Regions from separate parts of the Homo sapiens genome. Here all the other regions are linked to region 3. Evidence: fine-mapped expression QTL. A gene starts in region 3. Each other region holds a variant in brackets. All regions are shown on one strand. Distances are from middle to middle.

The links. PIP is the estimated chance that this variant, and not a neighbour inherited with it, causes the effect. A credible set is the group of variants that fine-mapping cannot tell apart.
Region 1: its variant is the best candidate, but not a certain one, in a credible set for the expression of FIGN in cerebellar hemisphere (GTEx, PIP 0.54).
Region 2: its variant is the best candidate, but not a certain one, in a credible set for the expression of FIGN in tibial artery (GTEx, PIP 0.58).

The regions. Positions count from the first base shown.
Region 1 is chr2:164,006,162-164,014,351 of GRCh38, forward strand. No RefSeq gene overlaps it. Among named protein-coding and RNA genes, the nearest start is that of FIGN, 270 kb to the left of the region's middle. The variant T/C (reference allele first, on the strand shown) is at 4,992.
Region 2 is chr2:163,684,063-163,692,252 of GRCh38, forward strand. The region is part of intron 2 of FIGN (fidgetin, microtubule severing factor); the gene reads right to left. LOC107985957 (a long non-coding RNA gene) reads right to left here. Exons shown (of 2, transcript XR_001739759.2): 2 at 1-8,190. Among named protein-coding and RNA genes, the nearest start is that of FIGN, 48 kb to the right of the region's middle. The variant A/T (reference allele first, on the strand shown) is at 4,188.
Region 3 is chr2:163,731,409-163,739,598 of GRCh38, forward strand. FIGN (fidgetin, microtubule severing factor) reads right to left here and starts at 4,600. Exons shown (of 3, transcript NM_018086.4): 1 at 4,430-4,600; 2 at 3,495-3,664. The coding sequence starts at 3,519. It overlaps LOC107985957 (a long non-coding RNA gene), which reads right to left and starts at 2,533. Exons shown (of 2, transcript XR_001739759.2): 1 at 1-2,533. RefSeq lists enhancers at 5,207-5,723, 5,724-6,239.

The sequences.
Region 1 (8,190 bases), 270 kb after region 3:
TAACTCCTCTCATGGCACTGAATCTTAAATTTAGATTATTGTAGGTTAAAATGTGTATTTTGAAAAGTGCTGAATTATGAAATAAAAGTGTTACTTTTATTGACTCTGTGTGGGATAACAAGATTTAATTTAGTTCAAAAATGAGTCAATTATGTAGAGATACAAAATCATGAATATAATGGATAATTTTTATGAACCTTTTAAAGACAATTCATAAAGAATTGAATACCATGATTAAAGTTACCCTACCTATTTTTTTTTACCATTTTGGATAATTGGAAAATGTTAAAAGTAAACTTTTAAAATTTATAATTGTCTAGTTAATGGTATTCATTTTATAATACTTTGAAATAATTAATTAAAGCTTAGATACCTTTATTCCAAAGTTGTGACAACATACCTGAGAAAAATTTCTAAAGTTCCTGTGTGACTCTGAATATTGTAACATTTTTCTGGCTAATTCTTATGTCAGTGCAATACAAAAATAGAGATAGAATACTTTGAAGTTGCATACTATATTAGTTAGAGTAATATCAGACTATGATTAAAAAATTAAATGCATATGTCTCAAACACAGAGAGAATGAGTTCGTTCCAGATCAACTGGCAAAGTGAATGAGTAGGGAGATGTGCTCTAGTCTATGCAGTTATTCAGGGATCCAGGTTGATGAATATTGCCATTTTCTTCATGCACATTGGCATCCAGCTGGCAGAAGGGGGAAAAAAGCCTGGAGGATTTTGAATGGGAAGTTATACGAGGCTGGGCATCTAAGATACACACATCACTGACTCACATTGCATTGGCTAGAATGCAGTTACTGGAGATGTCCAACTACAAAGGAGGCTGGAAAATATGCTCTGTGTGTCCAGAAGAGGAAATGGGTGGTGTTATATTTTTGGTGATCTCTGCCACAGAAAACTGTAGGTTTAGGTCTCAACATTGACAGTTACTTCTTGTGAACTTGAACATATCATTTAACCTTTTTGAGCTTGTTTCCTCTTTTATGAAACAGTAATTTGGCCAGGTGTGGTGGCTCATGCCTTTAATTCCAGCAGTTCGGGAGGCCGAGGGGGGCAGATCACCTGAGGTAAGGAGTTCAAGACCAGCCTGGCCAACATGGCGAAACCTCATCTCTACTAAAAATACAAAAATTAGCCAGGTGTGGTGGTGCCTAACTGTAATCCCAGCTACTCGGGAGGCTAAGACAGGAGAATTGCTTGAACCCGGGAGGCGGAGGTTGCAGTGAGCCAAGATCGTGCCACTGCACTCCAACCCAGGTGACAGGGTGAGACTCCATCTCAAAACAAAAACAAAAAACAGTAATTCATACTTTGTATATTTGTTACAAGAATTAAATGCGATTTGTCTATAGTGTACTTAGCTCTTAGCTCACTATTGGCAATAGGAACTACTCAGTAAACGGTAGCTATTTTCTTTTTTTAAGAAGATACTCAGGCACATTGTTTTAGGTATGATGAGCTCTTAGAACTTGGTGGGTATGACCTAGGATCAGAAACCACTGGACAAAATCTTGAGCAAGGGACAAATTGGAGTAGAGATTTAGATTATTATTACTATTAAGTAATAATGATAGCATTCATTATGTACTAACTTGACAAAGATCTTTTCATAAATTAACTCATTCGATATTCTCAATAAACTTATAATACAAATGCCATTATTATCCTAATTTTTTAGTTGAGAAAACAGAGATTTAGAGAAATTAAATACTTTTTTTTTTTTTTGAGACGGAGTCTTGCTCTGTTGCCCAGGCTGGATGGAGTGCAGTGGTGCGATCCTGGCTCACTGCAACCCCTGACTCCCAGGTTCAAGCGATTCTCCTGCTTTAGCCTGCCTAGTAGCTGGAATTACAGGCGCACTCCACAATACCTGGAAAATTTTTGTATTTTTAGTAGAGACAGGGTTTCATCATGTTGACCAGACTGGTCTCGAACTCCTGACCTCAAGTGATCCACCCACCTCAGCCTCCCAAAATGCTGGGATTATAGGGGGGTTATAGGTGTGAGCCACTGCACTGGCCAGATTTAGAAAGATTAAATAATTTATACAAGTCCACAATCAAATTTGGAAGTAAGATTTAATTCCAGATCCATCTTACTCCAGAGTTCACATCCTAAATAATCCCCCAAAAAGTGAGCACCAGAATCTAGGATGATGGAGATTTATTAAATAAGACTTGAGGATGAAAACGGAAGTGAATTAAAGTCTCAAGAGTGTTCTGAAGGGTTATTGACTTTCTTCAGACAAGCTCAAGAACATGAAAACGCAGTTTTAAAGACGAAGGATTTGTCCCAGAGATCCATCTCACAGGATAAAGATGGGAGACCAACATCAGTAATAGTATCTTTGACCAGTGAAAAATATTGCCTACAGCAAACTGACGTAACTCAGAATGTGAGGATGGATTGGAAAAAAAATACATAAATATTTGTTGATAGTGTCTGAGATTCAGCTTATTACTCCAGAGTGTAAGGATGCCACCTGAGGATACTGCCAGGTCATGCCTAAAGTCTTATCACCCAAACCAAACCAGAAGGGAGCACAATGAACACCCCTGCAGCCACATAGCATCAATGAAAGGATCTGAAATTTGACAAGATTGGAAACACCTTCGGACAGGTGAGTGCTAGAGTAGGGAAAGGGCTTACTAATGGTGAATGGTTCCCATCTGTAGTGTAAGGAGGGACGAGGGAGATTCAGTTTGGGGAATAGGGATTTATCTAGGTTAAGGGGTAGTTATTTCTTTTGGAGCTCAGATTGCGTAAGGGCAGTCTCTGCTTGAGCAGGAAGCAGGCACTGTCCAAAGTGCTTTCTTTGGTCCTCTCCAGTGAAAGTGATCTACCCTGCCTATGAATCTCTAGATACTTGTATGCAGTGCTCTCTCCCTGAATTACACACTCACATATACATTCGGACTTTTCAGGGCATTCAAAAGACACATACAACCATTTTCATTTCTGTATGAATGTGATTCAAACGGAGGAAGGAAATCAGATTTCCAGAGACATTTTGTTACTGGATGAAGGCAGGGGTTGGTTGGGGAATGGAGGGAGAAGGAGAATAAAAGGGAAAGTAGGTAGCATTGGTAAAGCAACTTCTGCCTGCTGGAAGGTGGCATATCTTGGATGAAAATATTCAAGTACTGCACATAATATCACCATATATTTCAGCATTGATAATCATGTGCTCATTTATTTAGCCCCCAAACAGATGTAACCAACATCATCACTTTCTATGAATAATAATTTACATTTTATTTTTAGTAAATAAAAACTTCTGGTTCTATTTTTGAGGCAGAGCCTAAAATTCACACACACACACAAACACACACAATGTTTATATTTTAAAAATGCCATTGCCATTGGCTTCGTTTCCATCTACAATTTTAAATTCAATAATGCATAATATCAACAACAGCAACAGCAATACGGGGAAAGGGTGCTTGCCTTTTGAAGTGGAATAGAAGCTCTGTGGCTAATGGGACCATGCTGTAACTCTCTTGAGCTATACTTGAGCTAGATATATCCCTGTGGAAAGTAGCAATTACCTTCAATCTCCCTGATCTGAAGTAATCCTTGCTACATGCGTCCCTCATTGTGAGTGATGAGGCCCGCTGTTTGCTGAGTCTAAAACCAAATGATCTCTCACAAGCAAAATTTAAACTTGAAATAGGATTCTCTAGCTCCCGATTCTGAGTCTATTTTTTTTCGTGTACTTTATACATTCCCAAATCAGGTTCAGGCTGGCTACAGATGGTGCTGGTGTGTAATGAGAAGGGCTCTGAAGCTGCTCCAGCTCCCAGGGGAGGATTCGGTAATGGAACTAACTATGTATTGTCCACCTTATATACTAGATTTGATTTTGGACTATTTGCCCAACTGTGTTTGTTTATTTCTCAGCACTGGAGGGCTTCCATTAGCTCCAGGCTGATTGAACATAGACTATGGAGTAAGAAGGAACAGAACATTTTTTCCCCCGAATGCTGATGTAATCCCTTTTCTTTTACTGACAACTGAGTAATGTTTGCCATTGGAAACTGTGTTAGAAATGAGCTGATATTTGCAGTCATTAGTGGAAAAGAATTGTTTTGATCCCAGGGAACAAAGTGAGCATTATTTTTTAGATGACAACGTTTCAGAAGTTTGTGCCTAAAACTTGTGTATTCAAGACCCTGAAAGGGAAACTGCTAACATTTTTAAAGCTGAAAATTACCTTGTTTCAGAAAATCAAAAGATTAATATTTAAGACCTCATAAATTTTGCTCATAGAGCATAGCCAAATATTATCATAATGAAAACCAAAACCTCAACTCAGCAAATTAGTCACCAAAGACCACATGTAAATTGACATTTTAGTTTTTTAACTAATGGAATCATTTGTCATATTACTGAAGCAGTTCATTATAAAAATAAATTAAGAATAAATAAATTGCAGTCATAGCAATCATGATGAAATTATTAGCAATCACATTTACCGGCATGAAAGTTTTTTTTTTGCATGCTTCTCATCAGCAGATGTTTTTCAAAATAACTTTGCAAACAACATCAATGTTATATCAAGGTTTATTTTTTAATTACTAAAAGCATAGTGGAAGTAAAAAAGAAAGTTACTAATTAAGAAGGGAAAGAAAATGTTGTCTTTCCCTTTCAAATATACACAAGTTCAACTACACAATTCTAATATCAAAATGAGAAATCTCTGTAGTACCTTAACTAGTACAAAGAAAATTAGAAAGCGGAGACCAGCTCATGCAGTTTCTAAATAAATGAAAAGGAAATTACATTTCTCTGGGTAAATATTTACTTCCTAAAGCGTGCCAACAAAAGCTACTATTTTAGAAATGGGACTTGGTAGTAACTAACTTGTACTTAGTTGATTTAATTGGAAATGTGCTGTTTTTCCTTTTAAGCCTGTGCTTTAATTGTAGAATAAAGAATTTTCAATCTGATGTTCTAATTGCACTTGGGATC[T/C]GGTATCCTGTTTACATATATATCGATCTGTAAGATGGCTTCATATGTATCAGTGTCGGCCATATTAGGAAGAACATCTAACCTATTTTTACTTTGGTGTTCATTAACAGGATATTCTTGTTTCTAGATTTTAAAAATTAAGCTTTATCCTTACTATTCATTTTGTGGATATAAACATTGTGCCTTTGATTTGAAATTTCAGTAAAATTTCAAGTGGAAAAATATAGAAAAATAATTTTAAGTTGTATAAAATGCAATTTAGTACTGACATGCAGTTACTCGCTGAAAGTAACTTCTATCTCTATATAATGTATACACAAAGACATTTCTCCAAATGGCTATTCTTATTTCTACCTAATATTTGGTTTAATTAATTGGTAGAGTGAGATAAGAAAACTTTCCAAGTTGCTTGTGCAGCTAATTTTATATATACATATACATATGCATATACATGAAGTAACAAAAGTTGTAACTATTCTTATTTTTCTTCACAAAAATGAACCCTCCATGATGCTTTAAAAACAGATTAAATTATAACCAGTGTTTATCTGATTATGATTTTTTATTCCTCATTTTACAAACTATTTTGGACCTATCAGACGCAGTCACTGGGATAATATTTGGGATTGACATGATGTGGTTGAAGAGCTATATTCAAGTGAATTTGGAAAAAGAAAGTGCTATTTCCAGATAAAGGAAATTGCTTTTTAAAGTCCAGTGGACTAGCCACCTAAAATGAGGATGGAGAATGGAGAACTGGAAGAAAGGAAAGAAAGGGAGAGGAGGAAGAAGGAAGATATGAGAGAATAAGAGAAGGAGCAGAGGATGGGAGCTTAAAATCTCATAATGGGCTTGGGATTGGCTGTTTAAAATCAAACATACTTCTTGAGTATTCCTTTCACTTAGAAACAGTTACAGCTGCCTCTTCATTTATGTTTTCAAGATTCACTAGAAAACTGCAGCATTCATAAGGAATCTTAATCCCTTCTTAAATTTTGAAATGTTGGATAATAGCTTTGGGGCAATGCTCAGCTGCTTGAAACTCACACAGTTTTCCTACTAGTGTAATATATATATATATATATATATATATATATATGGAAACATGGAAGTAGATAATAAAAGAATAATTTATTTAATACATTTAACTTATAAACAATTTAATATATTTTCAAGTTGTTTTTAAACCAATCATCTAAGAAGAAACGATGTCAAGAAACAAAAACATCATAGAGTACTTTCTCACTTTATGAAGCTTAACGTTAATAGGTTGAAAATTGAAATGTAAATTGATAACACTTTGCCATAATGGGATAATGCAAAAAAAAAAAAAAAAAGAGCTTGGATGTTTTGTGATTATCTCCTTCTAATAAACTTTATAAGAGAGGTGGATTTAAATGCATTCTGAATCACAACATTTTAGAACACAGACCTTGAACAAGATGATTTTTTTGTTTATGAGTTGAATGAAAAATCTGTATTTAAAAGCATTCTCTGATTACTTTTTTTTTCTGTCAGTGGGAATTTTCTGTGTGTGGGTGCATGCGCTCATGTGCGTGCATGTGTACATGTGCACACGAGGCTACATTGGGGACCTCATGCAGTAAGTTACAATGATGGAGCATGACAGTCAGAATAGCACACACTATTAGCTGGACCTCAACTCTATTACAGTGCTATGTTTGGTGACATAGAATCAAGAGACTCAAGGATACAAGGTCAAAGGTAGCAAAACATTACATTAATCTGTTCTCTTCACAGATACCAGTGTATCTCCATGTAAAATACAGCATTTGCTGCTTAATTATGAGAAACAAATGCCTAAGGATATTATTTAACAACAACAACAAAAGAACACAAAATAGTTGTCTCTTAGCTAAAGATTTGTAGATAGCTTTTCCCTAGCTCTTATTGTTTTTCTCTTTTTATGACCTCTACAGTTATTACTGGAATTGCTCATGATACTATAAATTGACTTAGTGGCATTGTATTCATTCATCCCTTGCTTCCTAAGTGCCCACATGAAAATGACATGAAAATAATCAATCTAAAATGAAATTAATAAATATCCTACCTAGGCACGCCTTATATATCACAGATGGACTAGATGACATAATATGCAGAAGCTATTTTCAATTGGTGAGGAGACAGAAAATTGACATCAATTTTCATAACGAACATTGAAAGAAATACAAAATTTAATTGCTGAATATCACTTCAAAGTAAATGATCAAATTTCAAGAGAGTGGGTTTTATTGTGGGATTGTCACACTAACTTCACGTTCTAAAAAGAGAAAAAGAAATTGGTAAAATAACTATCATATTCAGCCACACTACTTAACAAAGATCTTTTTTACTAAATGTGCCACCGATTAATATGCCTAGTAGCAGAATCTGCTAAGTGATCAAATAGTTATTAGGGATATGTATAAATGATATAAAGCTACCATACTTGTAAGGCATAATTAGCTATCACCCACGTTTCTTAATCACACAATTCATAAAATTGTAAAAACTTATTTTTAATATTTTAAATTTTGGATGATTATGAGCTCTAACTTCTGTCTCAACAGACTAGGGAAAGGTATGATATATATTCATATACTAGTATAATAGATGAATTTTGCTTTAAAAGGTGCTCCTGGATCTTTGTACATTCCCTACTGCTATATTCTCACATTCTCTATATGTTCTGTACACACCCCATCAGTAGTTCTAGGAGAACTAATTCAGAAAGTCTACCATTTTGAAATGCTAGAATGAATGTATCCTAAATAGTTCAGCTGGTACTGTACAGTTATTCTATCTGGTACAAATAGGCTTTAGCTAAAGGCACCTAAAATAAATAAATAAATAAAATAATAAAAGAAGAATCAAATCCCTCTGAAATTCTTTCACATGGTCACTGCCTTTAACCTCCCTGCCTCAGTACAAAGTTACTCTGTGTCCTTCACTTCTCTGGTTACGATAGAGCTATTTTCTGAGGAGCGATTCATAACAAAGAATTTTCGTTTGTGAGAGCTGTGCCTAGACTGACGCCATGGGCCTTTCCCCACCCCAAGAGCCTTTTGTTTTGTGCCAAAAGAATTGCTCCATTCATTATCCCCACAGATGCTTGGCCTGAAGGCAGAGAAAGTCAGTAAAAACAACAAGAAGCTGAGTTCTCCACCAGCCTAGGCTATCATTATCTACACAAGAG
Region 2 (8,190 bases), 47 kb before region 3:
TGTGTGTTTTTAAGTTTATGTGTAAATGCTATACTTCAAGAGTTTTTCTTTATCATAGATCATTATTACAGGATCATTATGATGTTTGTCCAAAAATTATCTTTACACACACACACACACACTTTAGAGACTTGTAAACAATATATTATTCAGTCATTCCTATCTTGAAATACTATTTAGTCTCTATAAAGGTACTACAAAAAGTCAAGAGAAGTTCAGCCTTTACTCTGCCTAAACATAGCAAAAGCAAGCTAGATGAAATTTTAAGTCACAGCAGTCCCTAATATTTGCATAGCCTTTTTGCATTTTTAAAATCCTCTACAAATATTATCAAGCTGGATTCTAACAATAGTTCTATTATTTGATCATAACAGATAGTCTAATTTTGTATTCCTGGATGAGGAAATGGAGACCCAGAAGTCAGGTAACACGTCCAAGTCCCAAGGATAGAATTTAACCCATTAGGTCTCAGGTCTTTTCTTCCCTAGCTTGGTTGTCTACATTCTCTTTCAAGCACACAATCTAGTTTTCAGGTACATGTCCCCACTTTAGGCTTTCAGAGGGAGAGGTAGATGTTTATCACTCAAAGTGATCACTTTCTCCTCTATGAACCACAGGGCTTTATCAGTAAAATCTAGTTAAAAACATTCTTTTCTACTTTTATTAGAGCTATGAAAATGCGTATTTTCATTATTGAACTGTCAGTTTCCTTTTTTTCTTCTTCTTTCTGAGACGGAATCTTGCTCTTGTTGCCCAGGCTGGAGTGCACTGGCGTGATCTCGGCTCACTGCAACCTCCGCCTCCCAGGTTCAAGCAATTCTCCTGCCTCAGCCTCCCGAGTAGCTGGGATTAAGGCGGGAGCCACCATGCCTGGCTATTTTTTTTTTTTTTTTTTTGTATTTTTAGTAGAGACAAGGTTTTACCATGTTGGCCAGGCTGGTCTCGAGCTACTGACCTCGTGATTCACCCGCTTCAGCCTCCCAAAGTGCTGGGATTATAGGCGTGAGCTACCGCACCCAGTGAACTGTAACTTTCTTTAAGGTTGGGTCCATGATGACTAGAAGAGTCATATTTCCTATTCCATAAACACCTAACAGTTTCATTTACTTAGCTAGGTATGGGACTATACTCTCTCATTGCTATCTTCTTTTTTACAATTAGACTTTGAATTCAGAATCAGAAATATTTTTCAAATTAATCTGTACTCCTTGTTCTACCCTTTTGTGATGAGTTGGCAACAGCTCTTCAGATAAAGAAAAACTGTGAAAATATCTTCCTTGGGGTCTTTCTTCCTATTTCCAAAACAACTTTCCAAGTTACTTTAATAATCTCTCAGACAGAAGTTTTTCAGATCAATCACTTTTTCTGACATCTTCTAGATAAATACATGTTTGGCCGTGTTCCCCTTAGGGCATAGGCAGTCCAAGACAAAAACCATGACTTCAAAAGTGACATGATCTGTGTAGCATTCAGAGGAACTACTACCTCCCTTGGTAGAGGCTCATGATTTTAGATTAAGGTTATGTTAGCATTCACAGCCACCACAGCTCATCAATCAGAAGGCTGAGCCAGACTTCTTCTAGGTCAATATTAACGATCTTGCAGTATCGTTATCTGAAGTAAGTGGAAGAATACTTTAATTTGTAAATCTAAGCTCATCAAATAGTTTTTCCTAAGACATGCAATACAGTGTTACTGGAGGAATAACTAGGAAGCCAAACCCAGGTGTGCTCGCCAGTAAACTGACTTTCATTATGGATATTGAAAGAGAACTTCACTTTCTCAGCAATGGGTTTCTAGAACTGCATTAAAGACATGTGGCATAAACTACTAAGTGAACATATCATGAAAACATCTGAAGACAACAATAAATTTTTAAAGGCAGATTTATAGAAAAAAACACATGTAAAATCTATCAAAGGCACAAAACTATTTGGGACAGTCATCAAATTTGGACTTCGTCAATTTCGCAGTAAGCCTTATAACAGTTTCTCAATCAGTATATCCAAGGAGATTATTGAAATAGTACAAAAGCAATGACTGAGAAATGGTGTCATAACATTTTTTTAAATAATGAGAATTCTAACAAGTTATCTTTGAAGTTTAGAATAGATTGCTACAATTAGAAAAAGATGGGTATCCATCATCCCACCCTGTCATATTCTGACATAAATAAAAGGAGGATGAATTTTAAATTACCTCTACTCATGACAGTTTTATCCTAGACAAAGTTCTCGCCACAAAACAGAGGGTGAAGGACTTCTAGTAGAGCTATAATTGCCATAATGTTGATTAAATGTACACTTAATGTGGCGAAAAGCTTTTCTGTGGCATGGCAGAGTCTTTCTAGTGCTATTTAAAAACTCTTCAAGTACAATCTTCTAAAAGTGGTACTTTGATGAGCAGTGCAACAACATACCTGAAGTTTCATTGCTATATAAAGCAGAGTTGGGAACGGTAAAGAAGTGAGAAGTGTGGGCGAAACTGCCTTATGTAGATTATCACATTACACATATAGTCCTAGTTAGGAACACACAAGCACACTAGTTTTATTTTATACTTACAATTTGGTTTTGAGACCAAATATTATCAATTTTATTGAATCAATTCTAACAGTATCTCATTTACTAGGCCTGGCTCCCAGTGACATTTAGCTATTTTCCCAAATCATATACCTGTGTTTATGTATGTATGTGTATATATATATATACACATACACACACACACACACACATATATATATATTCTTTTTAAAGTGATAAGTGTTGCCAAAATTAAAGATGATCAGAAGAAAGTGCTATTAGACAGAAAGCACTTTCCAAGCAGGAGGCCAAGTGTGCTTTGAAGGGCAGAAGACGTATGTATTTGTAAAGAGTGTTATTATTTAAAATAATCAGTCATTACTTAATATTAACACATTTTATATTATGATGTATGTGTGAGATTGTGTACACACACACACACACACACACATACATGCACAGCTACATGCTTCCAGAGACATCTCTTTTGGTATTATCAAAATGATAAAGTTCATATCATGATTCTCAGAGGCATTTGGAAGAGTTAGAGGAGAAAAGAAACAGAATGGTATTCAAAGCCATAAAACTGTGTCAGGGGATCACTAACTTCTTCTCCTGTGCCCTCCAAGACCACCCTAGATTTTTCTAGATATAATATTGAAGGAATTGTGTCTAAACTTTTTAAATGGGTACTAGCAGTAGCCAGCAAGACAAACAAAACCTTTCTCCAGAGCAGTGGAGAAGAAATGGTAACAGAAAGCTCAACCACTAGGCTTTGAGTGCTAGTTTAGAGAGCAGAACACACTGTCAATTGACACTTGCCTTTGACAATTTGAACAGAGTCGGGTCACCTGACCTCAGGCCTCATACACAGCTTAGTAAACTGCATTGCTCCCCAAAGAATAATTTATCTTTCCCTTTTCAGAGTACTAGACTTCACTCCAAAATGAGGTAACTGAGACTGGTCAACTGACTTCACATGAAAGAATTACTCTTGAGGAAGACAGTCAAGAATAGAGAATTTAGTCACAGAGGCAATTAGTTTACATTTTATTCTACTTGCCATTTGATTAAGTACACGTTTACCTAGGGAACAAGATGTTTTGCATGGCAACTAACAATGCAAACTTAAATTTTAAAGTATATATTTTTTATCCTAATGCTAATTCATTTTTCATAATCTGTTTTTAGTAAAATTCCTGTTTTTCAAAGTAGAAATAAAAATGAACAGTAACATGCAAAGTTAAATCAAGAATGAATGTCCTCACATATCTTGGGTCACAAAGACCAACATTCCTAAACAAAGGACCACAAAAAGGCATCATCCCTGACAGTTAAGCCAGGAGTTAGTATACAGATGCTTTACAAAGTGAGGTATTAACTCTCAGTAAAAACTGTATTACACGTCAACTATACGTCACAAAATAAATGTTCAGTAAATCTCTAAGGATTTATTTTACTAGTCTCCATTGACAAAACTTGCCAGAAAATACCAAAGCACACAATTCACCTCACAAAGAAGATACATGTATATATACGGCATTCACTCTTTACTGAAGTGAAGAATTTTAAAACTAATGTCTTTATGGCAATGCCTGCTTATAAAAGATACTCTGTGTAAAAGAGCCAGGAGATCCATCACCAGTGAAATGAGTATCCAATGAG[A/T]CCTATCGTGTGCTCAGAATGTGGGAACTCAGGAATTGAAGACATGGTCCTAGGTCTGACAATCACATTATAAAATAGCAAACAAAATGAAGACATAATCTAATTGAGAGCTATATTGAATGTTACAGATAAAGTGGTGGAAAAGATTAGAAGTGAAGGAGATCAGCAGTCTAAAACAGTTACATGTAAGATCATAAAATGATCCTTAATATTGGCACTAGAAAATGACAGACTGGAATGAATAGACAAAGGCAAAAATCGAGAAATGTGTGTACAGTATATCTATGTGAAAGTTAAAAAGAAATCGCTGTTTAGATGGAAGATGAGACCAGGTTATCATAGTTTTAGAAGAGGAGTTTAAACTTCATGCAGTGAATGTTGGGAGCTACAGAAGGCTTGTGAGTAAGAGGGAGACAACATGAACACATTGTTTGTGGACTACCCAGCCCAGATAATTCAAAGTTGGTCGCAAGAGGGAGAACCTAAAGCCAAAGTTAACAACTCTGGATTCCTCTTTTATTCAACAAAATTGGATAGTAAATATCAGATAGTTTTTGGTCATGTTTTCGGTAAAGGACAAGCAGAGTATAACAATTATTTGTAAAGCAAATAGCACATCGGATAATATACAACAATGAGGCTGGGTGCAGTGGCTCATGCCTGTAATCCCACCACTTTGCAAAGCCAAAGCCAGCAGATCCCTTGAGCCCAGGAGTTCAAGACCAGCCAGTTCAAAACCCTATCTCTTGAAAAAATACAAAATTAGCAGGTGTGGTGGCACACACCTGTAGTCCTAGCTAGTTGGTAGGTTGAGGTGGGTGCAACACTTAAGCCTAGGAGATCGAGGCTGCAGTGAGCCATGATTGTACCACTGCACTCCAGCCTGGATGATGGATTGAGACCTTATCTCAAAAACAAAAATGAACACACACACACACACACACACAGAAACACACACAGAGAGAGAGTGAGATTATGAGAGGCTGGAGCAAAATCATAGCTCTGGCATCAAGTCTTTCAGATAACATGTTAGACACAGAGCTCTATACTGCAAGTTTGAAAGTGATGCTCATCTGGTTTCATAGGTACCACATATATTTGTTGATCTATATCACATATATGTCTTGATCCATATGTGGTTTAACTTTCAATGTAAGTTCTCAATATTTTATCTATACCTACTGAAATGCTTGATTGACTATCAGGCATGCCTTAGACAATCAGAAAATAAAATTTTAATTTTAACAAAGTAAATATATGCCTAACAAAGAAAAGGATCAAACAATACCATAAAATGGAAATTATCAACCTTTTATTTAAAAACAGTAGAGAATTTCAATCGAGTAGTGTTCAAGTATTGAGTCAATCTGAATTACACAGAGCCTTGACCAATATTTATTGCTACATGTTTTAGAAGCAATTTCCATTTTGATGGGTTGCTTCAAAAGTGGTATTCTGAAGCAGTTAGGCAACATAAAAATATAGGATCAAGATTATGTCTGTCAGATGAAAAATACAGCATTTATGCAGCATTATATAATCCATTCGCTGGTTTATGAGCCCAAGGTCCCCATGGGAGTGTCGCAAACCCACATAATAGCTACAGGGTTATATTTTGCATTTGAGACTCCAAATGAGCAGCAAATACTCTCTAAAACCACAAGTGTAACTAGAATACTTGTACTTGGTACCATAAAGTAAGTGCAAAATTGTAAATAATTTCAATCTAGCAGCTAAAGATGTCCTTGTTTTGGGTGATGCCAACATTAAAATATGTGCACTTTTCTTCCAGTTATGTCAGTCCCCCTCAATTGTTAAGATACATACAACATAAATCAGATGGTCAAATTGGGCCTATGAAAGAACAGTTACCAATGATTCAATGTCAAGGAAGCCTACTACAGTGTTCCCCAAGGATGAGGCCAGTATTTCTTAAACACTCGAGCTAACTGCCTTCAATAAAGAAAAACACATGATACTTAATTTCAAACAGGACATGACACCAGGGATAGCTGGTGTGGCTAACTCAGGAATGGACATAATTGTAGTTCAAAACAATAGGTTATATCTTCAATATAAATTTAAAAATCAAATAAAGTATCGGTATACATTTATACATTTATGGGGAAATAACACAATGGACTAGCAATCTCCAGCAGCAGAAACAAATGTGTCAAAAAGCCGTAGAGCTGGGTGAGAATCAAAAACTAATGCTGTTTTGGGATAGAACCATTTGTAAAAAGCAATCTAATCTAGATAAATACACACAATATATAAGATGTAATAAAGCAGTTATATAATGCATTGGCATTTAGTATGATTATTAACAATACCAGTCTAGTCTAGGCAACAGTACAGAACACATTTAAAAATATATAAAACAGGATATATGTAAATATTAAAGAAGTCTGAATTATGTAATCTAGAGAAGTAAAAGTTGAAAGGTGGCTCAAGTATATATAAATATATAAAAGATTATTTTATGTGTATTTAATTGTGGCACATTTTAAAGAGATGGAAAAGAATACAGTGTTGCTAAGATAGAGATATACCAAAAATGTAATTTTGTAATTTTAAAGTCATTGGAATTTGTGTGTGTGTGTTGGGGTGGGGGGCATTCTTACCTAACAGGCCTTCTCATGATTTTTTAAACTATAAAACATTTTTTAAACTATAGATTTAGTCCACACCAACACTGCAGATTTTACCAGACAGTATGAGGAACTGACTTCCGACTTAACATTTTTCAATATGCTGTTGGGTAAATTATCAACCCAAATAGTCTTTCAGTCTTTTGCTTAGAGTGAGGATCATGGGACTCAAAAATAAACTTTTTCCCAAAGGAAATGGACCGTTGGCCACTGACCACAGAATTAAGAACACTGTGCACTTTGTTTTTAATATAAGACTAAATTTATCTTTCAAATTGATGGGGTTTCTAGAGGTCACAAACTGACAGCCTATGTACAAAACACAGACTGCACACTGTTTGTAAAATCTTTGATTAGTTGCCTAATTTAAAAAATTGATACAATTACATTAAAATGGGGTATCTGCTGTATCTTGAAAAGAAAATAAAGAAAAGAAAATATGGCAACCCTCTGCCTTTATTTTCACAAGTCAACAATCTGCTGATGCTTCATGGTGACAAACGAGGAACAATCTTGCTACCTGTCCTCCTTCACTCATTTTTAACCAATCTAGTTCCAGGAGGCACCTGAGTTTGCCATCCCTGGTTTATAAGGATGGACATTTTCATACTCTGCTACTTGATGTGACCTATTTTAAACAGTGACTTTAGTATGCCTAGACTATCTTACAACATGTTAATTAATCCAAGAGAAACTAACACCAGTAAGTCAGAGAGTGGCATCCTTCCATGAGTGGTTATGCACTTCAATTCAGCCAGATTTAATTTGGTTAACAAATATTTCATGTTACCTACACTAAAATGGATTAGTGGCAATCAACTTTCTCTTTTCAGGAATTGAGGCAAAAATTAACCCTTCTGAGCATTAAAAACAAACAGAAAGCAGAGTGGAAGTTGTGGAATAAAGAGGAAAATATGTGCTATAACCAGGGCCAGAGGAATTTGCAATTAGAATAAAGAACAAAATGTTCTGTCCAAAGAAAAGACAAATCCAAATCTTTTTAAGTTTCTTCCCAAGGATTCTCTCCAAGAAGTGAAGACCCAGAAGCAAGTTCATCTTTAAAAATTTTAAATGCTCAATCAAATCTATCTTAAACATTTGTTTTGTTATGCCTAGGGAAAAGATTATTTTTCTAACATTACTGTCTTAGCAAACAATGATAAGCTTCACAAAAATAAAATGTTCCATTTTGCTTTATTACTGAAAGCTATGAACAAAATTATTAAAATTAAAATATGAATTGAAATATTTTATAGTCCTAAACTTGTTTAAGTAAAAGGATTTTGTATTGTCATTTATTTGGATAAAATATTATACATAGGAACATGATTCAGTAAGAAGCAGGCATAGGG
Region 3 (8,190 bases):
GTTACACTCTTATATTATCATCTAAAAGTAATTAATGAAATTTCTGCACTCTTGTATATCTATCAGAAGTAACTACCTACAAAAAGGTTTTCAAAGTTCCTGCCTAACATGAATAAAAACAAAAACAAAAAATATTTTCTATTTATGGGAAGGAAAAAAATATCAGCCCTGGAAACTCAGCTACAGGAGTCTTAAATATAACTAAAGAATAAAACCCCCTATTTTCACTCAGAAGATATCAGATACTGTTTTAAGAATCTTACTGATGAAATACAGCCAGGAGAAAGAAAAATACTCTATTTTCAGAAAAAAAAAAAAGATGTTTCTTGAAATAATTCCAAAGAGACCCTATAAACTGTGTTTTTAGGAGAAGAGAAAAGCAAATCAACTCACACATACAGCTTCCAAACAGAAGTCTTACCCTCTTCCAGGAAAACAACAATGAGACTTTATTACCCTGCTATGATTCTTTCATTTCAGACATGATTAATTAGCAAGTATTACACTTCTCAAAACTCCCACCCTACTCTTCCCTGCTTATTTGATGATAGACCCACATGAAATAACAAGTTGCCTCCAGCAGTGTAAGACAAGTATCCAAAAACTCTATTTTAAAGAAGAAACACTTCTTTCCTATCTTTGCCTCCCAAAATGAAGCAGGCTGCTTCTAACTGCTTTCACAATTTTGTTTCAACTTGGTCATTTTCCTAACAATACCTTTTCAATTTTAAATAATGCATACAACATATTCATTATTCAAGAACACATAGCATGTTTAATCTGATACCTCTATTTTTAAGCTGAAATTCCAAAGGACTTATGTGTCCATGCAGTTTATATTGATAACCATAAACATGCACAATTAATAAACAATAGAGACGATGTGTACAAGCATGTTTTGGGACATGGTTTTTGTAGAAATAATGTTTCTTTTCCAAATAAAAGCTAATTTGTCACAAATATAATGAAGATAAGAAACAAGCATGAAGGAGTAAAAGAGAGGAAGAACAGAAGAGGATAACTAAAATTTGAATGAAAAACTCTTGACTCTCTACATATTCTTCCAAAATAATCTTTCAAAATAATTTTCCTTTTGAACAATCTGTGTTCAAAACGTCCATTCCATGTGCACCAAGAAGCCAGCCATCACTAAATATATTATAAATGTATATTCTAACAATCATCAATTTATAAAGTCTGGGATTTCCCCTTCAACCTTTCAACTGTTACGTCCAGAAAACTTCACACATAGTGAAATCCTAATAAATAGATCTTGTTGGTTCCAGGAAACATTTTTAAAAATCTATACTGGTCAAAATATCCTTGCTTTTTTTCTGTTGTATTAAATTTAGGATCAAAAACATCAAAGCAGCTTCCACCTCGGACCTAACTTTTAGAGGATCAATGTGACAAGGCAGTCCCTGATAGATGTTTCTCTTGATAAACGACTTGTTCAAAAGAGACATTGTAGCTTTCATTTCCTGACCACAACACACTTTTAATTTGCAACAGCAGAGCTGCCAGAGTGTGAGCACTTGCCCACTTTCTAGTCTTTTAGGTTTGTAGCTCTGGTTCCTTTAGGCCGCACATTTGAGACAAACAAAATCTAAAAATAATCAGAGTAAAGAATTAGAAAACAAGAGCCAGTAACGCCACTTTATACATATACACAAGTGTCTACTTTATATATATGTATGTAAACTTTCACCCCTAGAATTCTAATATATGATAACAAGGCTCCTAAGTTAACATCATTTGCACATCGGACATTTAAACATAGGGAAATGAATTATGTGACTATTATTTAATAGTAAGCAGAGACTTAAGAGGGGGGCAATTTACACACTCAAATCTGCTGTTAAATGTCATGAATTATATAATTGCCTATGCCAGTATGTTTTTCATGAATTATTGCAATGATTATTATTAGTACTACCTAGAAATCACATTTAAGTATCAATACGGTGAACAGTCAAACCATCCAATTTCTGCTCTCAGCACATTGTCCGAGCTCCGATTTAAAATTTATAAATGTAATATCCTCCTCATCACAGGCAGCAGCCCAATCTGCTCTGAATATATATTACAGCTTTAACATCACAGAGGGAAATCGCCCATCTGGCAATCCCATTCGCTCCAACAGCTCCGGGGGAAAAAAAGCTGTGCTCTCTCCTCCTTAAAACATTTCTCAGGGCAAATTATGTGCATCTAAAATAAACAGTCTTCTTATTGATCGCTTCAAAGTCAACAAGTTCCAAATGCAAAATTCAATCAAATCTTTCCTATCGTGTAAGTGTGGTGTGTATTTAGCTCAATAGTCACCAGAGTCCAACCAGACGTGTATGTCGCGCAACGGGTCTTGTAGTTCCTCTCTTCGTATTCACATTTGTGTTAGGAGAGAGCAGTGACCACGGCCACACTACAGACCCCTGGCAGCTTTGCCCCACTGTTATTTCTTTTTTCATATTCTCTCTTTCCTTCTTTCTCTCTTTTCAGGAGGAATTAACGGTCATGGGGTAAACATAGCAACAACCAAAAAAAAAAAAAAAAAAAACAGTCTAAAGTGGACATATCCTTTGGTTATGCAAAATACTTTAACATCTTTTTGTTGTTGTTGTTCCCTCTGTCTTAATTGAATATTACAAAGTGTACACAGGGCACTGCCACAAGAGCTATTGAAAATCCCCTCTCACTCCATTTAACTGACTTTTTTTTTTTGTAAAGAAAGGAAAGAGCGATTTCAAACGAAGTCAATTTCAGTGCCTGATTATTTAATTCTGTCACAAGTTAAAAGTAAAAAGCGCTGACAGGCAGACGAGTGAATGGAAAGGGGGAAGAAAAACCTATCCCTACTCTTTAAAAGACATCAAGGACTTTGGACAATCAAAATATAATTTTTATTTTCATGTAAAAGACACCTCTTCACTTACCCGCCCCCCCCAAAAAAAAACCACACTCAGAAGAACTGATTACTCCACAAAGTGCAAACATCAAGAGCAGATAGTCAAACTGCATTAATAGATTGAGAAAAATAAAATTTTCATCCAGTCCTGTTCCTGTGTGTGTACATATATATAGATACACTTTCATTAGTTAGTAATCTTTCCCAACACTCCTGCCCTCTCCCCTTTGCCCAGCCTCCCTCCTTCAAAAAAAAAAAAAAAAAAAACCCACACTGAGTTTAACTAATTTACATACTATTTGACTTCAGCAGTTATATATATATAGTGCATTACTAGTAACGTGCAACTTCTGGATGACAGCTAAAACCGATAAAAGTGGATTCAAGTAATATATTAATCAAAACTGCAATATACAAACAAGTGATAGCAAAAGAAAAAAAAGCATGGTGACATTAAACATATATTTTTTAAAAAAAGGAATTCTATATCATGAGCAACTGCTTGCCAGGCAGTCTTCAATGGTTTTATCATGCTATTTCATTTGTCTTTCCTATTTAGATGCAAAGGAAGTAAATTCCAAAACTGACATACCATAAACACTGGTGCTACTGATCATTTCTTGCTGGCAGCACAAAAAGCTGAATTGGATTTCTCACAAGCAGGAATTCCAAAGGTTGCTTTTCATTAAAGCCACTTTTCCTCTCAGCTATCAAATGTCACTGCCTTGAAACGTGGGCCCTTTCGTCAGGTATTCATTTAACCTACATGCATATAATTAAGGGGGAAAGCAACATCAACAAAAAGGGGATCTCAGATCACAGGAGAAGAAAGAAAGGAAAAAAAGCACATGACCAGGAATGCAAGTCCATGTCAATTTCACTCACTCCCATTGAAACTAACAAGAGCTCCGGGGAGGACGGTAATAGGATCAGTGGATTGTATATACCATTAAATTATACATCTTTCTCTCCCGTTCCTTGCCAACAATACGCCCACCACGCTGTACCCCCTCCTAGATGATGTGCTTACATTTTTCTGCAACCGATCTTCTGACATTTTCTCGTTCCCCCAGCCACGAGATTGTAATTTAACCTCAACTTTTTGTGTGTGTGCAAGATTCTTATTTACACTTCTTATTTACTTAGAAGTTAGTTCCCGAAGAAAGTCTAGCCCCACCCTATGGCTCCGCTTTCTTATTTTTTTATTTTTGAAGTAAAAAGATAGTAATAAGTAAGCCCAATATAGCGAAAAGCGAGATTCTTGCAATCGCGAACTCTTAATCCCATACTATTGTTACAATGATTAAGCAGCAAAAATATGCATTATAATGTTTCAGGGCTACTTTGAACAGAGAAATTAGACAGCAGGTTGGCGTACAGAATAGAAACGAGTGGAAATTGAATTTAATGTTTACGGCACAACTGAAGATCTCTTTTAATTACAGGTCTTGGATGTATTTATATTCTTTAAAAATAAAACAAAAACAAATTTAAACAGATGGTAGAAAACTACGAAGCTCCTCTTACCTGAACGCGCGGAGAGAGAACCCGATAGGTTAGCGTAGCATCGATCCGATGTGTTTGCTGATGAATGGAAGCTAGGGTTAAGTGAAGGTGCCTATGATTTGAAATCATTCCAAGTTTTTGAAGGGAAGACGGACTGCAGCCTCTGCCATGTTGGAATTTCAAACCCAAAACAGCTGCTTGGAAGGAGCCAGCATGCCAGAGGCTGGGCGCAGGCGCAGAGCGCCGCAGAGCCAAATTCAAATCACTTTCACACTAAGAGCCAAAGATCAGTTTTCAAAGGAGAGAGGGAGAAAGAGACGGAGGCTGCCGTGAGGGAGAGAAGACGGGAGGCAGTGGCGAGAGGCGGGCAGTGGAGAGAGACGGGCAGCGGGAGGACCAGGAGGGAGAGGGAGAGGCGCACGGAGCCCGCGGAGCTGGAGGGGGAGAAAGGGAGGCGGGAGGCGAGCCGGCGAGCGAGCTAGAGACGCGCCAGAGATTCATGGGCAGGGAGGGCTCAATGGCCGCGCCGCGCCGGCCGGCCGGCCGCTCGGGTCATGTTACACGGCCGGGGCCGCGGCGGCCGCCCAGCCTCGCCGATGCGCTCACGCGGCCCGGAGGGGGCCCCGAGGTCATGATTACGCGCGCGGGGACTCGCAGCTCTCCCTGCACGCACTCTCTGGCGGCCCAGCCTGGGGAAAGGGGAGCAGCGCCGTAGGGGGAAGGGGGCTTTCTTTCCCACGCGTGACCAGCCGGCCCCTGCGCTCCCCGGCCTGCGTTGGAGGGCCCGGGACAGAGCCGCGCTGCTCCCCGGCCCGCGGGCTCTTCCCTGCCGGTTCCCGGCCCTCTCGACAGCTGCGGCCCGTCCGCCCTTCCCCACCCCCTCTGCGCACGGGACGGGATCTGGTCTCGAGAGCCTGGACCTCACCGGCACCCTCCCCGGGGCCCCCAGCACCAGCCAGAAAACGACTTGATCTGCTTAGAAGAGGCAACTTCGGGGAGAAAATTCGCGTTCGCCCAGTTCCCCTCCCCCGCCTCCCTGTGAATAAATAAAATCCTAAGTGTCTAGGTGTGCGGTCCCCTCTCGCGCTCCCTGGCTCCCCTCCCTACCTCCCCCAGGCGGCTCGGGCTGGAGAAAGCAGCGCCCGGGGGGCCCTGGTGTCGGCGGCTGGTGCGCAGGCATAGACGTTAGGCTTCTGCCTTCCCAACCCCCCTCTATGGAGTAATCTGGGGACCCAGGAGTGGGAAGAGAGTAGGGGCTTTGTGGTGCTGGGAGCCGAGGAAGAATGAAATGTGCAGTTGAGTGTGTTGCTCGCATCCCAGGGAGCAATGCAGTGCTGATTGTCTGTTGCTGAGATAGCCTTTTGTTCGGAACATAAGGTTTAAGAAACACACACACGTTTTCTGGGGTCTCTTGTTAGATGTAAATGTGCGGCATCCAGACGCTTACTATGCAGTGTAAGCTCAGTTGGTTTACTAATCACCCCGCCCCACCCGCAAACAATCAGGATCATTTGAATGGGAACCTCATTCAGACTTCTAGGCTGAGAGTATTGCCTTCAACCTATTTCATTCTAGACTAGCCAACCATCCAACTGAGATAATAAAGCAAACAATAACATTTGATCATGATGTCTACGAGATAATGTGCCCGGCAAAGTTCTTTAGGAATTGTAATGAGAAAGAGAGTGAATTGGGTCATAATTTCTCTTCGTTTTCATTAAATATGACTTTAATAGATAAATGGTGAGTTTATACTTTGGCCTGGTAGACATCCAGTCTTCTATATTTCAACGAAGCTAAGAATGAAAGAGGCAAATTATATATTCCACCAGGAGCCCATCAAGCTGAAAATGTTACCTTTGAAGGTTGGAACCGAAAATGCACTTGCTGAGGACTGACCCTCCTCATAAGGGTGTTCACATTTCCCCCAGCTTCTCTGTTGTAGATTTGATAGCCTAAATTGCAGCTCTCCAGATGCTGAAATGCAGCTCTTTAAAAATGCCAAATATATACTTTGAAATTAATTCCATTCACCTTTTATGATGTTCTTACCTTTGAATGGATGCCTTTAGCTAACACACTGAGAAATAAAAATTATTTCAGTTAAATCTAGGCAGATGACAGAATTTAAAAGACAAAAAAAGAGTGATTCGAGATCCTAAGAAATATTTCTAAGCAATGAGATTTCTATTTGGAATGGATTTGACCTTTCTGTGAATTTTTTAAAAAAGGAGTCTTCGAAATAAAACAGAAGAACTTTATTCTGATGTAACAGAGAACACTGAAACCTCTTTAGTTATATTTTACAAGATGGCTTTGAAAATGATATTACGAAAAGTTGTTCATTGGATTTTACCACAAAGAAATAAGTGTAGGGAAATATCTGTGGGTCACTGTTGGATTGAGTACAGATGAATTAAAAAAAAAAAAAAAAACTGTGAAGCGCTCATAATCGCAGTTATTGCCCATTTGGGGAATGACGACCAAAAGTCCTCTGGACACACAGCAGATGCTCTGTGCAATTCGGGCAAAACTGCTCTGTTCTTGTTTGTTAAAAAAGTTCAGAGCTCATCAACCTTTAACATTAAATCCTAGCGTTGAATTTACAGTTCCTTGTGTAAATTCAAATAGTGAATAAAATATATAATACAGTGCCCACTGAATATAAAAACAATGTATTTTGATGACAGACTTAAAGCCATTCATCTGTAATATCTAAAATAAAACAACCCCTGCTCTTTAAAAAGAGGAGGAAAAAGTGTGGTCAGCAAGAGTTTATTAATAGATAATAACTGTACCTTTCCAATTCCCTTATAGATTCATTTGAAATACACATTATAAAAAAATCATTCAACATGCAAATAAATATAATTAACTTTGGAATCAAATAATTGGAAAACTGTTCAAAAGAGCACTGGATAGAGGTACAGAGTTTCTAAATTGTTCAAAATTACATATACTCTGGGAATAAAAGACACTTACATAATAGAATATACATTATGGGACTTCCATAATAATAAGATACACAGGAGAGTTCGTCATTGCACTATTTCTCCCTTTTTTTTTAAGTATAGGTAAAAGTTGCTTTTCTCCAATTATTTTAAGCAAAGGAAAATAAAACTTGACTTTCTTTTCCACAGAGATTCATGGCATTGTTTGCGATGTTCAGTTTTTGTTGTTTTAATAAAACTATCTTTAATTATGTGGTATGATTAAAAAGCACTTTAACAGTCATCATATTCTGTATGCATTTATCTTCAAAACTTTTAATCAAAAGAAATGTTTCTGGCTGTAGCTGACATCCATCTCTATAATATCTTTTGAAACTTCTTGATATAACATGAGAATTAAATATTGAGTGTTTAAAGGAAGTTGATTGGCTAGTCAGGGAAACAGTTATTTCAGAAAATAATAAATTTGACTAATTTTTCCCACTCTATTAGCAATATCATTTCTCTTTCTATTTTACTTTTTAAATGCACAGACATTATAATGCATAACATTTTGACTAATATGTGAAATTCTAATACACAGTATACTCAAACTTGTGCTTTTTAAGAAAATCAGAAGAAAAATCAACATAACTCTTCTTCAGGAGTGTGTGTGTGTATGCCTTCCTTTCAAGATAATTCAGAGGGGAATTCTACTTTTTTCTGCTTTTTCTTCTCAAAATAATGTAAGCAACAACAACAAAAGTGAAGGTTAAGGGAATAAGCAAAGTGATACTGAATGTGATTTTGCAAATGACCATAGACTTGTCTGCACTGGACTAAGGAAAATAT